3 linked regions of the Homo sapiens genome follow. The protein of the gene in region 3 purifies or fractionates together with the protein of the main gene of each other region. This does not show direct contact. Each region holds a gene or a part of one and is shown on either strand. Other genes may lie near its edges.

The links. Proteins that work in one complex are often made in the same cells at the same time.
Region 1: the proteins of HROB (region 3) and MCM8 purify together in Homo sapiens (affinity purification with western blotting; one study listed by BioGRID). This does not show direct contact.
Region 2: the proteins of HROB (region 3) and MCM9 purify together in Homo sapiens (affinity purification with western blotting, with the first as the bait; one study listed by BioGRID). This does not show direct contact.

Annotation. Positions count from the first base shown.
Region 1 is NC_000020.11:5,985,152-5,988,651, reverse strand, and holds part of MCM8 (DNA helicase MCM8), read right to left. Parts: intron 2,731-3,500; coding exon 2,521-2,730; intron 1,371-2,520; coding exon 1,294-1,370; intron 1-1,293. UniProt on the Homo sapiens protein: Component of the MCM8-MCM9 complex, a complex involved in the repair of double-stranded DNA breaks (DBSs) and DNA interstrand cross-links (ICLs) by homologous recombination (HR).
Region 2 is NC_000006.12:118,827,160-118,830,659, reverse strand, and holds part of MCM9 (DNA helicase MCM9), read left to right. Parts: intron 1-1,409; coding exon 1,410-1,612; intron 1,613-2,529; coding exon 2,530-2,733; intron 2,734-3,500. UniProt on the Homo sapiens protein: Component of the MCM8-MCM9 complex, a complex involved in the repair of double-stranded DNA breaks (DBSs) and DNA interstrand cross-links (ICLs) by homologous recombination (HR).
Region 3 is NC_000017.11:44,148,430-44,151,929, reverse strand, and holds part of HROB (homologous recombination OB-fold protein), read right to left. Parts: coding exon 2,903-3,500; intron 970-2,902; coding exon 886-969; intron 880-885; exon of another isoform or gene 316-879; intron 1-315. UniProt on the Homo sapiens protein: DNA-binding protein involved in homologous recombination that acts by recruiting the MCM8-MCM9 helicase complex to sites of DNA damage to promote DNA repair synthesis.

The DNA of each region.
Region 1 (3,500 bases), on a different chromosome or scaffold from region 3:
AAAAGCAAGGTATAGCATGTATATGGTATGTTGTTATAGTTACCATTTGTCTACAAAGGGGAAAAAAGAATATATAGATATGTAGTCACACAAAAAACTGCTAATAATTGCCACTGGCTAGCAGGAAGAACGGGGTAACTATTAAGCTGAGTAGGAGGAAACTTTTTCCACTATATACTTTTTTTTTTTTGAGACAGAGTCTTGCTCTGTCACCCAGGCTAGAGTACAGTGGCACAATCTCAGCTCACTGCAACCTCCACCTCCCAGGTTCAAGCAAATCTCCCGCCTCAGCCTCCCAAGTAACTGAGATTACAGGCACTAGCCACCACGCCCAGCTAATTTTTTGTATTTTTAGTAGAGACGGGGTTTCACCATGTTGCCCAGACTGGTCTCGAACTCCTGACCTCAGGTGATCCACTTGCCTCGGCCTCCCAAAGTGCTGGGATTACAGGTGTGAGCCACCATACCTGGCCTATACTTTTTGAACTTTGGAATTTTGAAGCTTATGAAAGTATGGACCTATTAAAAAAATTTTTTTATCTGGAATAAAAAAAACTACCCAAAATAATATTACTGATTTTTAAAAATCTATGTCTAAGGTAAACATATATGCTCAACTAATTTTTCTTTTCTACCTTCTAGGAATCATTATCTACTAAATGATGTAAAATGCAAAGGATACAATTTAGCAATATTTATCAAAAACCTATAGTATTTACTGTTGAACCCAGAAATATCGCTTCTGAGAATTTATCACGTAGGTGCACAACTTACCCACATATGAAGTATCTTACGTAGAACATTACTCATTGTAGCATTATTTAAAAGCACAAGAATGGAAAATATTTATGTGTCAATAGGGGACTGATCAAATATACTATATAGTATATCTACACAATAGAATACTCTAGCTATAAAAAAAGAGTCTCTAATAAAAAAAGATCTCTGGATATATTGTTAAAATTCAAAACCAGTACAGAAGAGTATAAACAGCAGACTGTGGAAAAGCAATGGGTGTCTGGGTGAAGGGCGAGTAGGTGGTAAATAGCTCTTCTCCAATAGGTTTTGGAACTGATTTTAGCACTATGTAAATGTATTACTCATTCAAAAAAATTTCTAATGTAAAGATTATTTACACAGTGAGAAATATTTTAAACTAAGAAACGGTACTCTGTTTAGGAGGAAAATAAGTGACCCAATGGGCTAAATAAAAGTAGCCTTGGCCTATTACCTAATTTGAGATGGGAAGATAACTGGTATTTCATTTAAAACAATTTGAAATTTTTATCTTACCTATATTTCATAATTTCCACTATATCCTCAGCGTCTTCTTTGGTTGCTTCCTCTCTCAATTCCAACCTTGCTCGTGCCTTTAAAAGAAAACACCATTTTCAGATGACGAAAGATGAATATATTTACCATAGTATGTCTAAGCTTTACTTCATTTACTTGTTTTACACAAAAACTGACCTTTAGGCGAGGAAGGTTATAACATCAAAAGTCAAAATATGGAAGTAATTCTCTGGGCTGGGGGTGGTGGCTCACGCCTATAAACCCAGCACTTTGGGAGGCTGAGGTGGGAGGATCACTTGAGCCCAGGAGTTCGAGACCAGCCTGAGCAACAAAGTGAGGACCTGTCTCTACAAAAAAATTTTCAAATTAGCTGGGTGCGGTGGTGTATGCCTGTAGTCCCAGCTACTTGGGAAGCTGAGGTGGGAGGATCCCTTGAGCCTGGGAGGAGAGGCTGCAATGAGGCTTGATCATGCCACTGAACTCCAGCCTAGGTGACAGAGGGAGACCCTGACTCAGGGCAAACAAACAAAAAAAATCTGTGAAACCTTGACTATGAAAATTACAACTCACTTAAAATAAGGATAAACCTCATTTTTACTTGTTAACGTATATTTCTGAGTGATCATTTCAGGAGATTTGATGATGAAATACACTTGGTTTTCCCTTGCCTTTTACTTTTAGGAAATCATACCTAACCAATATGGTAAAACAACAAAGAAGAATTAATCAGATTTTAGGAGCAAAAAGCCCAAACTCTGAGCTAGCTAATTTTTACTGCCAGAGTTCTCTTAGTATTTCAAACTGTGAATAGATATTACTGCTGTTAAAAACACAGGAACTATCCTTGTGGACCTGTCATGTAAAAAAATAAAATACTCAAGATACCTGACACATTCCATGTTCCCATATACTCAACTTGGGTCTCATACTCCTAGTTAACCTAACCACTTTTCAGATATTCCAGGAGTCTCCTAAGAGTCAGTCAAAGAAAAACAAAAGAAAAGTTGCATGCTAAGTAATTGATTCTGTGACTAGAAAGAAGTAGCTATACTTGGATATGTTATAGACATGACAAAATCTTTTAAAAAACTTTCATCCATCCATTTCTAACATCTCTCTATAGAAAGGAAAATGGAGTCAATTATGCAGAAAATACTTCAAAAGAGAAGTCAAGGCACACCCTTCCCCTTTAAGCCAAAAAAAGCATGACCATAAAAAGAAACAAACCTCTGTCAGACGAATCAAAGATTCCAGCTGCCTGGTAGTGATTGGTGAGCTATTTAACCTCTGGCTCTGTTTCCGGAGCTCAAGGTAAAAATCTTGAAGAACTCGAGCAGCTTCTGTGGATAGCCTTGGGTACACATACTGCCGAGCATAGCCAATGTACTTTCTCAATAGCTGGTGGGGAATGGGATCTATTGTTTCTCCAGGAACCACCTGAAGCATGATTAAAAGGCCCAAGATAACAAGGATAAGTAGCAAATAAAATATTTCTGCTAAAATAACTTGTTTAGGCCAGGTGCAGTGGCTCACGCCTGTAATCCCTGCGCTTTGGGAGGCCAAGGAGGACACATCACCTGAGGTCAGGAGTTCAAGACTAGCCTGGCCAACACAGCAAAACCCCATCTCTACCAAAAATACAAAAATTAGCCGGGCGTGGTGGCACGTGCCTGGAGTCCCAGCTACTTGGGAGACTGAGGCAGGAGAATCACTTGAACCCGGGAGACAGAGGTTGCAGTGAGCCAAGATCACACCACTGCACTCCAGCCTGAGCGATAAGAGTGAGACTATGTCTCAGAATAAATAAATAACTTGTTTAGATAAATATACAATTCTAAAAGACTCTCCAAATCAACCAAACACTTTATCTGTAGGTCTCATCTTAGCTGACTTAGATTCCTTTTTTTTTTTTTTTTTGAGACAGTCTCGCTCTGTCACTCAGGCTGGAGTGCAGTGGTGAGATCTCAGCTCACTGCAACCTCCGCCTCCCAGGTTCAAGCAATTCTCCTGCCTCAGCCTCCCAAGTAGCTGGGATTACAGACACGCACCACCATGCCCAGCTAATTTTTGTATTTTTAGTAGAGATGGGGTTTCATCATGTTGGCCAGGATGGTCTCGATCTCTTGACCTCATGATCCACCTGCCTCGGCCTCCCAAAGTGCTGGGATTACCGGCATAAGCCACCACGCCAGGCCGACTTGGATTAT
Region 2 (3,500 bases), on a different chromosome or scaffold from region 3:
CATTTTTAAATAAGAAATACAAATAGTCCGTCTTCAGTGTGGGTTAAATGTGCTTTTGTGGGTTACTTAGGAACCGCTTATTACATTGTTCTATGGCAAATTATATTCCAAGTTCTAAACAACTGTCTTTACAAAAGCCATTTTGACACATAAATTATAAGATGTGGACTGTCCAGAATTTTTCCTTGTCACTAATTTTTTAAAAGGGAATTTAGTTTTTGGTAAAAATGCCTTGTTTATCTTTCTCTTATTTATTTAATCAGTGTCTTCTTGTGCCACTTGCCACAAATAAAGATTCTCAAACATTTTCAGCCTCAGGGAATGAAGTAGCTGCTAGCTAGAAATAGATCAGGGATTAACAAATGTAATACATGTTGCTGATGTCATAGGGCTGTGACTTGGGAGGCAGACATCCCACTATAACTAAAAATGGGCATCAAGTGCACAGCATACAAATTTACAGATTCAAATTTTTACATTTGTTATTGCCAATGAATATGTCACATTATTTTGAGAACTAGCCCATCATTAATTAGTTTAAAAACAATATCTAAGTTATGTCACATCCATCCCTATCCTGCCACGCTCCATTTAGGACTACCTTGTCCCTCTACTGGACCATTGTACTAGAGCCCCTACCCTGCATCCTGTCCACAGTCCTTTCCTGTCCAACCCACTCACCAACCCAGTCCTCATCAGACTTCCCTTCACAATGGCTCCTCAAAAACTCAATGCCAAATCAATCATATTTTCTGATTTCCTTTCCCTCCCTCTTTCTCTCTTTTTTGTTTCTTTCGTGTTTAGAAAAAAAATCAAAACAAAATGAGTGAATACACAGAAAGTTTTTGCCTCAACCACTCACTATTCTCCAGAGTCATCCTCACTCTCTACCCTCACCCCCTCTGCAAATGCCTGTCTTTCTCCACCTAAAAATGTCCAGAGGTCTTGAAAGGTTCAGTTCAAAAGCTGCTTCACAGTGTTTGCTTCTGTGTTCATCTTTTCTATCCACATAGATGAATATACATCATCCCTATTTCCCCTGGGAACTTTATTCTTTTAGAACTTAACCATATTCTGCCTTGTGTTACATTATAGCTAGTAGATTGCAAGCCCCTTAAGAAGAGTTTGGTTTAATTTTGGATACTTCTTAGCACTTAGCAAAGGGGTCTCCTCATAGCAGGGGCATAAAAAGTGTTTATTGAACGGTTACTTCTCTTTAAGATAGAATAGTTTCAGTATACTTTGTTGGAAGTTGATGTTTGTGATATCTCCTTCTGTCATTCTACATTTTCTTTCATAGGAGTTCGTAGATTTTCAAGGTGCAAGAGCAGCCCCATTTTATTAACAGCTGTAATCTTGCATTTTATCTGAACCTCACAATCAGTGAATTGTACTGTCTCTCCTGGCAGCCTCGTGTGCAAGCTGAACACAAGGACCACCATCCTGGCAGCAACGAACCCCAAAGGCCAGTACGACCCCCAGGAGTCCGTGTCTGTGAACATTGCCCTCGGCAGCCCACTCTTAAGTCGATTTGACCTGATCCTGGTTTTGCTTGATACCAAGAATGAAGACTGGGATCGTATCATTTCCTCCTTTATCTTAGAAAATAAAGGTACGTGAAGACAAACAAAGCATTCAAAATAACAGAGAGATTAGCTGTAACTAAAAGAAATTCCCTTTCAAGAAAATTAAATAAATACCCAAGATAGGCTATGTAGTACCAGGCAATAGAGAAAAGCTTAGACAGAAAGCAGTGAGAGGAGCCACTTACGGGGCCTCAGAATACTGAGTTGAAGGAAAAGGGCCTTTCTCTACCTGCCACTAATGAGACTAAAGTTGTTATAAATATGTGCCTTATGATGAAAGGGGACAACCTTATGATACAGAATTAACGCTCACCTCTTGCATATAAAACCAGAATGAATTGTGAAACAAATCTCTAAATGTAGGCTTCTCTTTAAATCAGATTTACTCAGGCCGGGCGTGGTGGCTCACGCCTGTAATCCCAGCACTTTGGGAGGCTGAGACAGGTGGATCACCTGAGGTCAGGAGTTCAAGACCAGCCTAGCCAGCATGATGAAACCCCATCGCTACTAAAATTCAAAAATCAGCTGGGCGTGGTGGTGCACACCTGTAATCCCAGCTGCTGCAGAGGCTGAGGCAGGAGAATTGCTTGATCCCAGGAGGTAGAGGTTGCAGTGAACAGAGATCGTGCTACTGCGCTCCAGCCTGGGTGACAGAGTGAGACTCCATCTCAAAAAAAAAAAAATAGATGTATTTGAATATTATTGATTACTGGGCAGACCAGAATTATTCTGAATAATTTTTAATAAAGGCAGGAAGCTTACCTTTATTAAGCTTAGATCATAAGATGCTGATTGTATGCTATGCAGACAAGTCTAGATTTCAATAACCACAAAACATGAAGGTTATCTTTTAACAAATGAGTACCAGAACTTTATAAAAATCCTTAAAATGAGATGTTTGCCTGTCCTAAGAACTTACTGACCCAACACCTGATACATACAGGTTACCCAAGCAAATCAGAGAAGCTCTGGAGCATGGAAAAGATGAAAACCTATTTCTGCCTCATAAGGAATCTGCAGCCCACACTGTCTGATGTGGGCAATCAGGTTCTTCTCCGGTACTACCAGATGCAAAGGCAGAGTGATTGCCGGAACGCTGCCCGGACCACCATTCGGCTGTTGGAAAGCTTGATACGATTAGCAGAAGGTCTATTTCATTCAGCGAATGATGCTTGTATTGAATGCTGCGTGTGTGCAAGGCATGGGGCTTGGCACCATGGATTCAAAGTTGAATGAGAATAACTCCCACTCTAAGGTGCTCATAGTCACTTAAAAATAAAGGCTCTGAGCCAGAAGATCTCTGCTCCTCTGAGGACAGATTATGAGTATTGACTGGAATGTGGTGTCATTAAGAAAGAGGAATCTTTGTGCCATCTCGGGACCTCCTAGAACTTAATATACCATTCACTTAGAAAGCCTTACTTCTGATATTTTGTTTCTCAGTGGTAGCTCTGTTAGCATTTTGAGTAGGACAGTTTCTTGTTTGGAATTGTTTCCCATATAGCATCACTAGTTCTTGCTCATTAATTGCCAGTTGCAGTCCACCCCTGTCATTATAGCAACCAACTTGACAATGCCATGCCCTGCCCCATTACATATATACATATAGCTAACATGTATCTTAATTCTTTTCTTCTAACATTGGCTTTTACATTTTAGCTTTTGTTTAAATCTAAAAAAAGAATTCACATGAACTGAATAATAAAATAAAATAATACAAGCTTAATAAAAAATACTGTAAAACAAATGGACTTTCTTTTTTCAAGGATTTATAGCTAATATTAGGGCAAGAAATACTCAGAATTTAGAATTGCTTGTTTGGTAGCTTTGAAAAGCTCATAGATCATAAAGAGGAGTGCCAGAAATGAAAAATGAGTTTTAATTTTGTGTAGTTTTATAAAAGACTAGAAAATG
Region 3 (3,500 bases):
GGTTGCAGTGAGCCGAGATCACGACACTGCACTCCAGCCTGGGCAACAGAGCGAGAATCCGTCTCAAAAATAAAATAAAATAAAATAAAATAACATAAAATAACATAATAAAATAAAATAAAATAAAATCAGCTCCTGACTTTAACTGCATTGAAGCAGAAGGCTATCTACGCTTATTTTTTGTAACAGACTCAAAAAGTCTTAGGGGTAGGGATCCACCACATATATTTATAGGCTTCCAGAGTGGCTTAGCCATTTTGAAACCAGTCATATTCTATTTGGCATGCTTCTAGCTTTAACAATTAACCTTCTTACATTAATACATGCTTTGAATCCAGAGAGTATCTGCTGCTTTGGATCTGAAATGGACTGGCAGATCTGCGGAGCTACAGCAGAGAAAAAATACTGGGGAGAATTAAAAGCAAAACTGGGTTTGAGGGCAGAGCAGGTCAACCAGAACCCCAAGGAGAAGGGAAGCAGGGTCTCACCCACCAAAGGGAACCCAGCAAAGGCAAGAGAAGGCAGATCCTTCCCAGCTCAGTTCTCAGAAACCTGAGAGGAAGGGCTCCTGAGACACAATCTCATAATACTTATCACAGTCTCCTCCCCCAGGGGAAGCTGGAGCTAGCTGGGCCTTTATTTCTTAGATGGGAAAGAAGGCTGGACCCATGGCATCAGATAATACCTACCTGGCACCAGGACAGGCCTCACTTAATGCCAGTAAAATTGCTGCCTCCCCCAACTACCTGCCTCAAATGCCTTTTAGTGTGTGACACCAGCAAACAGGCCTAGCAGCATCAGCTCTTGATTCTTAACTCCTGAAACACACAGGGACGCCCCTCACTCTCAAATCACACCCAGAAAGTTAACATTTGCATAAGTTACCTCTGTCTGGAATTTAGCCAGAGCACCATGGGTTGGAGTTTGGGGCGCGGAAACCATGATGTCCTCCAGACTTCTCCCACTCTGCTAAGAGGGGAGGGAAGGAGAAGATGAGAGCAAGCTTAGCAGCTGTTATTTACAAGTACAGCTTATTGTCTGGTTTACATAATGAGTTCAGGAAATGATCAGGGACTATTAACACATATTACATCTCTCCTAACAAAGTCTCAGGAGCCTCTTTGGCAGCTCAAAAAAGATACTTTGGGGATTGGTTTGAAAACGTGAGGAAGCCGGAGCTCGCCCAGGTGCAAAAACCAGGGCTGCCTGAAGGGGGCAGTGACCCAAATAGAGAGGCCTGGCTGGGCGTGGCGGCTCACACCTGTAATCCCAGCACTTTGGGAGGCTGAGGCGGGTGGATCACCTGAGGTCAGGAGTTCGAGACCAGCCTGGCCAACATGGAGAAACCCCCATCTCTACCAAAAATACAAAAATTAGCCAGGCGTGGTGGCCCATGCCTGTAATGCCAGCTACTTGGAAGGCTGAGGCAGGAGAATCACTTGAAGCTGGGAGGTGGAGGTTGCAGTGAGCCGAGATTGTGCCACTGCACTCCTGCCTGGACGAGAGAGCAAGACTCTGTCTTAAAAAAAAAAAAAAAGAAAGAAAGAAAGAAAAATTGAGAGGCCTGTGATGAGCAAAGGGGCAGCTTTCCCCAAGTCCTAACCCTTTCCTCCAGGGAGATCCAGCCCAGGAGGAACATAGACGGCCTCTTTGGATATCTGCTAACATGCTAGGGAAGAGCAAGTAACAGGCAGAAATTGTTTCAAACACCCTTAAAATGGGAGGAAGAGGGCACACCTATCACAACCAGTCCAGATCCTCAGAGTCCAATTATCTGGGATCTGATCCAAGACTAGTTTAATCCAAGTCTCACCAGGGCTGTCTCCTTTTCAGCCCCAGCTTCCCCACACCTGCCACAATGAACTGTTCTGTGGATCTGAGAGCACCTTGCTCTTCTGCCTCTGTGCCCTTACACATGCTCTTCCCTGCTTTCCCACTGCCAGAACATCCACAGAGCACAGCGCCCGCTCCGCCACACACCTGTTAACCTCCTACTCATCCATCCAAAGCCCACTCAGCAAGCCTAAGGCAGAGCCAGTGTCTTCCCAGCACCCAGGGAATGACCCCTGTTCACACTGTGTGCTTTGTGCATGTTTGTTTGTTTACATCTGTTTCTTCCATTTCACTGTAAGTTCTTTAGGACAGGAACTGTTTCTTTTAATCTCTGTATTCTCAGTTCCAAGCAAATTGTCCAACACATAAGACCTTAACAAATGCACAAGAATGACTTCCTGCCCTAGTGCACACCTGTAGTCCCAGCTATATGGGAGGCTAAGGCGGGAGAATGGCTTGAGCCTAGTTCATGACCAGCCTGAGCAACATAGCCAATCTCTAATTCTTAAAAAAAGGAAAAGAGGGTCTTCTTAAAAAAAGGAAAAGAGGGTCAGGCGTGGTGGCTCACGCCTATAATCCCAGCACTTTGGGAGGCCGAGGCGGGCAGATCACTTGAGGTCAGGAGTTCGAGACCAGCCTGGCCAATATGGTGAAACTCTGTCTCTACCAAAAACACAAAAATTAGCCAGGCATGGTGGCGGGGGCCTGTAGTCCCAGCTACTCAAGAGGCTGAGGCAGGAGAATCGCTTAAACCCAGGAGGCAGAGGTTTCAGTGAGCTGAGATTGCGCCACTGCACTCCAGCCTGGATGTTGCAGCAAGACTCCATCTCAAAAAAAAAAAAGGAGAAGAAAAAAGAAAATTATGATGTCCTCAGAGCCTTAAGCACTTCTTCACAGTGGATTTTCTAGCATTCAGTTCTTCCCTTTTATTTCTCCTGCAGCTTTGAAAAGCCTCTCTGCACTTCCTTCCTTCCTTCTCTGCAAGAGGGAAGATATGCTAGGGCTGGACAGTGCTGGAACCCTGCTTCTCTCCCTTGCCCACCAAATCCTAGAAAGCCAGCTCACTCACCTGGTGAGGCAGGATCCCAGCTGGGCCAGGGAAACGGCGAGTTTTGGCTCGGGTGGAGGGATGGGTGGGCTGCTGGGGTGTCCGGCTGGCAGCAGTGACTAGCTGCACCAGGTGGTTGGTGACTATGGGTGTCTGCAGAGCTCCCTGGGGACCTTTTGGGGTACCAACAGGAGACCCAATGGAAGACACTGGAGCTTGCGGTTGTAAGGGTATCCGAGGAAATAATCCAGAGCTAGTCCTTGAGGGAGTAGAACAGCTTGAGTTGGGAGTTCGAGGTCTGGGTAAATGAGCTTTGCCACTTAACCAGGAACTTGGAGACTGGAATGGCTGACAAGGGAAACGATTTTGAGGGCTGCTCTGAATGGTCCCTCTAGCAGCTTGGAGAGGCTGAAGTGCTTGAACAGGGGAGCGTTGCGGACAGACTTCCCAGTGGAGTTGCTGAGTGGGAACTGTTAAGGCAGTTGGAACAGGAAGGTGACCCACAGCACCAGGTCTCAAGGGGGGTCGTGGAGTCCTACATTGGATGACAGGATCTAGAGACTCATCCTGGGCGGACATGATACCCGCTTTGTGGATGGCAGGCACAGGCCCCTTCTGG